Linked DNA regions of Homo sapiens: region 1 is linked to region 2. The links come from fine-mapping of genetic effects on gene expression. A gene starts in region 2. The other region holds a variant in brackets. All regions are shown on one strand. Distances are from middle to middle.

Region 1 (2,918 bases), 28 kb before region 2:
GCCAGGCTGGTCTCAAACTCCTGGCGTGAAGTGATCTGCCTGCCTTGGCCAAAGTGCTGGGATTACAGGCGTGAGCCACCACGTCTAACCAACTTTACATATTAAGGTTATATATAGAATCATATATATGTAGTATATATGGTATAAATACATACAAATGTATCATATATGATATCATCAGCTATATAACATTTAGGAGACTGGATATAGGGAGTGGGGGAGTGGAAAATGTTCAAGATAACTCTCAGGTTTCTAATAGTTTATTTTATTTTTCCCAGTGACACAGAACATGGGAGCAATTGAGGAAGGGCAAGAGGGATCCATGAGCTCGGTTTTGAGTCAATGTACCAAGGGAATATTCAAGTGGAAGTGCCCAGGAGTGAACGGGACATATGGCTCTGCAGCTCAGAAGAGAGCCTGGATCTAAGAGAAGGAATTTCAGAGATATCAGGGTAGGGATAGCAGCGGAAGCCTTGGAAGTGGAGATTTTACAGCAGCTGGAATTTACCCCATCTATGAGAAGAGAGTTGGCTTGTTTGCTTTCTGGGAGGTAATTTGCCCCTGAAACTCATCTTACTTTTGGTGAGAATCGTTTTTTAAATTATAAAGCACATTATATGTAGTGATAAGTGCTAAAACAGACCCAGGTCGTTAAGACGCAGAAAGGCAATTAACTGCCTTATAGGAATGAGCATGGGTGGGAAAATATCTGTTAGACAAGTGGTGGGGGTGGGCAGAAGGGACTTCCCAGGTAGAAGGCACATCTTGTACAAGGACAGGGGAATCCAGGAGAGTCCATCATGTTTAGGGTGCACAAATAGTTTAGTCTGGTTAGGAGAATGCCTAGTGGGACTGATTTGTAGAAGGCCTCATAAACCTGGCTTATCCTATGGTTCTAGGTATTTGGAAGTATCTTAACTCCTTACTTAGATTAAATCTTAATATCTCTCACTTTGGGGCTTTGTTCTTTGTTCAACGTCCCCCTTAAACCGTTTACGCAGCTTATTAAACATCGTTTGGCCGCTCAGCTCGGGGGGAAATCACCTATGTCACCATGTCCCATTCCCAGCCTGGTTCCCATCCTCTGGTGTCTTGAAGCTGCTGAGTCGTCCCTTTATCACGGTACATCACAGTGCACAGGGCTCCTGCCTCATCATCTTTACACCCTCCACGCATCACACATGGCAAATGCCATCTGTTTCAGGAATGAGTAACCTTCCTTCTGATGAGGTCGCCCACCAGAAAGCTTCTCAAATGGGATAGGCCTGTTTTCAGAAGAGGAACACATAACTTGTTTTTTAAGGTGAAAATTTAAAATTATGCTTCTAGTTTAGAAAAGTCACAGGGCATGTAAAAATTAAATGTCATTCAGCATAATCAGTAATCTTAGCCAAGTTTAAGATTGAATGCAGAGGAAAGAAGACACAGACCTGCGTACTCGGATAAATTCTGACAGATCTGTTTTTTTTGGGTTTTTGTTTTTTTCTTTTTAACCTGGGATTCAAGAGGTCTCTCCAGAGACCACAAGGAAGAGCCTGCTTGAGAATGAAACCAACCCAGAGGAAAACACAATCAAGAGATAGACAGAATCCTAACCATTTCACTGAACACCTGGACTTCTCAGTTACATGAACCAATACATGTTCTACCGCAAGGGAGTTG[G/T]AGTAGTGTTTTTGTCACTTGAGCTGGGAGTCCTGACAAATCTGCTTACATAGCTGGGGCTACAAGTCTAAATCTGAAGCCCAAGTTCTTACGGCCTTAGTTTCCTCACAGGGACAATGAGAGGATTTAGCCCACATTGATAGCCTTAAGCAGTACAGTGATGCCACTAGGGCTGGCACAGCCAGTTCTCTATCCCAAAAGATGTGTAAGGGGTCAGAGACATTGACTAAGAAACAATATTCGGTGCACATCATTCTGACATCTGTTGCTTTTATTCTCTGCATTAATACGAGAATTTTAGAAAACACATTTCCAGTCATGGAATATTGTTTAGAGTAGGGTTTGGCAAATTTTTCCTGTAAAGGGACCGATAGTATATATTTCAGGTTTTGTAGGCCACAGTCTTCATTGCCAACTATTCAACTCTTCTATTATATGGGGAAAACAGCCACATGTAAATGCCTGGGCATGGTTGTGTTCTAATAGTTATTAACATACACTGAGATTTGAATTTCGTATCATTTTCATGTCACAATATAGTATATATATTTTGTTTACTTTTTTTCTCAACCACTCGAAAATGAAAAAAAAATCATTCTTAACTTGTAGGCTATACAAAATTAGGAGGCAGAGGCCAGTTTGCTGAACACTGGACTAGATGTTTGCAGGCCTGGGTTCTACCTAAAGCTCTCCCATTAACCAGGTGACCCTGGCCAAATCGCTTTGTCTCTCTGGGTTCCCGTTTTCCCCATCTGGACAATGAGGGGGCTATATGAGATGGTCTCTTAAGGCCCTTTGGCTCTCAAATACCAGAATTCTTGTAGTTTATCCAACAAATATTTATTGAGTATGTATGATGTACAGCCATTGTTTTAAATGCTGAGGGTATAGCAGTGATATACAGTTCCTGCTTACATGAAACTTACATTCCAATAAAAAGAGACAAAAAAAAATTTAGATATAATGTTGGTTAGCGGTAAGTGCTTTTGAGAAAATCGTGAGGAAAGGATTGGAGAGTGACAGGTTGTAATTTTAAGAGGGAGGCCGGGGACTGCCTCTTGATCATTAACATTTGAGCAGAGACATGAGTCAGGTGAGAGAGCGGGCTCTGCGGCTATCTGGAGAAAGAGCGTTCTAAGCTAAGGCAACAGCCAATGTAAATGCCTTGAAGTAGAAGCTCCCTTGTATTCAAAGAATAGCAAGAAGGCCAACGTGGCTGCAGTACACCGCACAAGGGGAGAACAGTAGGCTATAGG
Region 2 (2,918 bases):
AACAAAAGCAAAATAAATAAAGAAGATATAATTAGTGATACATGCCACAAACACAATTAAGCAGGGTGATGTGACAGGGACTCGACGACTATAGATTGAGTGGAGGGAAGGCCTCTCTAAAGGAGATGACATTTGGGACTTGAATGATAGGACATTCTGATTTTCTCATGTCTAAAATCAGGAATAATACCAATAGCTATTAATATTTATTACCACGAAAAGGTACCATGTTTTACTGGTAAGAGTGCAGGCTATGCGGGTCTGGGTTCAAATCCTGACTTTTGCACCTAGTAACTGCACCTTTAGCAAGTCACATGACCTTTCTTTAAGCATCCTCTCGATAGAAAAGCTTTCCTAAACAGAGTTCCTTGTTATTCTATATCATAGCCACTTTTCCATCTTTTTCCTCCTACTAAATGCTAATTCAATGTATTACTTAATGTTTCCTCTTCTATTTCCTTCACTAGAACGTAAGCTCCCACAGCACAGGACCTTGCCAATCTTGATCACGGTTCTATTTCTAGCACTTAAGTACACTGCCTGTCTCACGGTTGGTGCTTAATATTTACTAAATGAAGCAAGCCGCTTCTCCACTCGAAGACTTAGTTTCTTTTTCCTTCCTAGAATGGGTACAATTTGTCGTCTCACGAGGTCGTTGTGAGTCTTAAATAAGACAATTTTGGTGACAGCTCAGAATATGGCTTTTTGAGGAAAGGTAAAGGGTAATAAAAGATCAAGACGGCACGGGACTATCAAAATGCTTTGCGTTTGCAATAGCAACAATCCTTTAGACTACCAGAGTTCACAAAACGCGGTTACATTTGTCTTTCCAGCTGAGCTGCAATAACTCTGGAAGCCAGAAATAGTCATCTGGGGAAAGTGCAATCCAGAGAAGAAGAGACACCTGATCCTAACAGCAAGCGGTGGGGTCATGCCTGGAACCCTGGCTTCCCGATTTCTGGCTGCGAATTCCTACAGGCGAAGGGTCATTACTCGGATTGTTATTTCCGGGCCAGCGACAGGACAATCCGGGGCGGGGCCTGAGATGCAGTCCTGCGAGGGCGGCCTCCTGTAAGACCTCTTAGCGGGCCCATCGCTGAGGTGCAGGGACATGTCGCGGCCGAACTCACCTCGTGGCCTCGGCGTGGTGCTCTCAGCTCATGCCCGGAAACCAGGTCCCGACGCCGCGGTCAGACGGACCTCTAGACGCGTCCGCCTCAATGCCGCCAGCTGCCAGGCCGCCCGTGACGCGTTAAGCCTGCGCCGCCTCCTGGCTTCGTGACGTCACGACGTCCGCGCAGCTGCGGTCGCCGCCGTCGCACGAGTCTTTCCTTAGTAACCTGGGCGATAGCTGGTGAGTGTCCTTGACAGGGCCTCGAGGGGCGCGTGTGGTCTGGGTGCCAGAGACCCTTACTCAGGGACCTCTGGGGGACCTCAGGGGACCAGACTACCGTCCCCGACCCGTTCGAGTCCAGCTTGACCTTTAAGGCTGAGGGCGGGACCTGTGGCATTGGAGCGAGTCTCATGGGGTGGGGGCGGGGCTCCTTTTACCAGCTAGGAATTTAGGGGATGCTGGAGGAACTTACTAAAGAGTAGCCGCACACTTGACGGGAACGTTTGAGTTTCAGAACAATCCCATAGGAGTAGATATTATTATCTCCCATAATGAAGAAACGGAAGCTCACATAGGTAATTTTACCAGGGTCACGCGGTCAGAAAGTGAGGGCGCTTAAATTCAGACCTAGGGCTATCCGACTCCTAAGCCTGGACTTTTAACCACCACTCTGTGCCACCCAGTGGCAAAACAGTTGTCATTTCAGTAGCCCTTCTCCATTTACTTAACCCTGACAAATAGTATTGTCATTTACGTTTTACAGATGAGACGGAAGTCCTGAGAGTTTGACCGATTTAAGGTCACGTGCCTAGGAAGTGCTGGAACCAAGACTCGGAGTTTTCTCTAAGTTTAGTGCCTTTATTTTGTTTTAAACCACACTGTTGCATTTCCCCCCATTTTGGAAAGCTTTATAGTTGGAAAGAATGAAAACCTGATCTGACCCCTTCATTTTATGGTTGAAACAAAATCTACGTAGGAGAAATCACTTGGTACAAGTCACAAGTCAGTGGTAGAGCTGCCGCAAATGCTTTTTGAATACGTGTGATTATGAATCTAAATGGCAGATGGCAGGGAGTGATAAGGTAGGCATACTGGAATCCAGATCTCTTAACTCTTAGGCAAAAGCCCTTTCTCTACCTGTTAAAGTGTCTCATTCCTTCTTTGGCCGTGCCAGGTGCATAATGATTCTGTGTATAGTCAGATACTACAAGTACCTTTCTTTACCTGGTACTGCATTTAGAGAAGAACATCATCTACTATCTCTAAGCAAAAATCTGGCAAACCAGAGACAGTGGAGGCAACGCTGGGAAGCCCAGAACCTACCATAATAGTAAGGGTAGATTCCCATCCGATTCTGGTTTACCCTGGATAAGGAATTTATCTTTCTGGACTTTCACTGATGTATTCATCACATTCACAGTGTCTTCTGTGTTCTGGCAATGTACCAGGTACTGGGGATACAGCAGTGAACAAGAAAATCATAGATTAGTCCTTGTAGTACTTAGAGTCATATGGAGGGAATTAGACAATCAAATAATTACACAAATGTTAGCTTGTATTGTTAAGAATTAAGTGCTATGATGAAGTAAAGGGTGCTATGAAAGCAGACTACAGGACACTTGACCTAGTTGGGCTGTAGGAGATGGCCAAGGAAGCCGTCCTCTGAGGAAGTGATGGTTAAGCTGAAATCTGAAATAAAAACGGAGACAAACAGTTAAAGAGGTGAGGGAAGATCATCAAGGAGATTCAATGGCATGTTTGAAGACCCTGGAGCAGGGGGAGCCCTGGAGAAGTGAAAGATCAC

The links. PIP is the estimated chance that this variant, and not a neighbour inherited with it, causes the effect.
Region 1: its variant is fine-mapped to the expression of RBM18 in whole blood (INTERVAL, PIP 0.97).

What each region holds. Positions count from the first base shown.
Region 1 is chr9:122,235,721-122,238,638 of GRCh38, forward strand. RBM18 (RNA binding motif protein 18) reads right to left here. Exons shown (of 6, transcript NM_033117.4): 6 at 1,902-2,918. Among named protein-coding and RNA genes, the nearest start is that of LHX6, 8.2 kb to the left of the region's middle. RefSeq lists a silencer at 1,616-1,816. The variant G/T (reference allele first, on the strand shown) is at 1,663.
Region 2 is chr9:122,263,585-122,266,502 of GRCh38, forward strand. RBM18 (RNA binding motif protein 18) reads right to left here and starts at 1,256. Exons shown (of 6, transcript NM_033117.4): 1 at 1,131-1,256. MRRF (mitochondrial ribosome recycling factor) reads left to right here and starts at 1,298. Exons shown (of 7, transcript NM_138777.5): 1 at 1,298-1,354. RefSeq lists enhancers at 438-1,409, 788-1,987, 1,410-2,380, 1,556-1,715.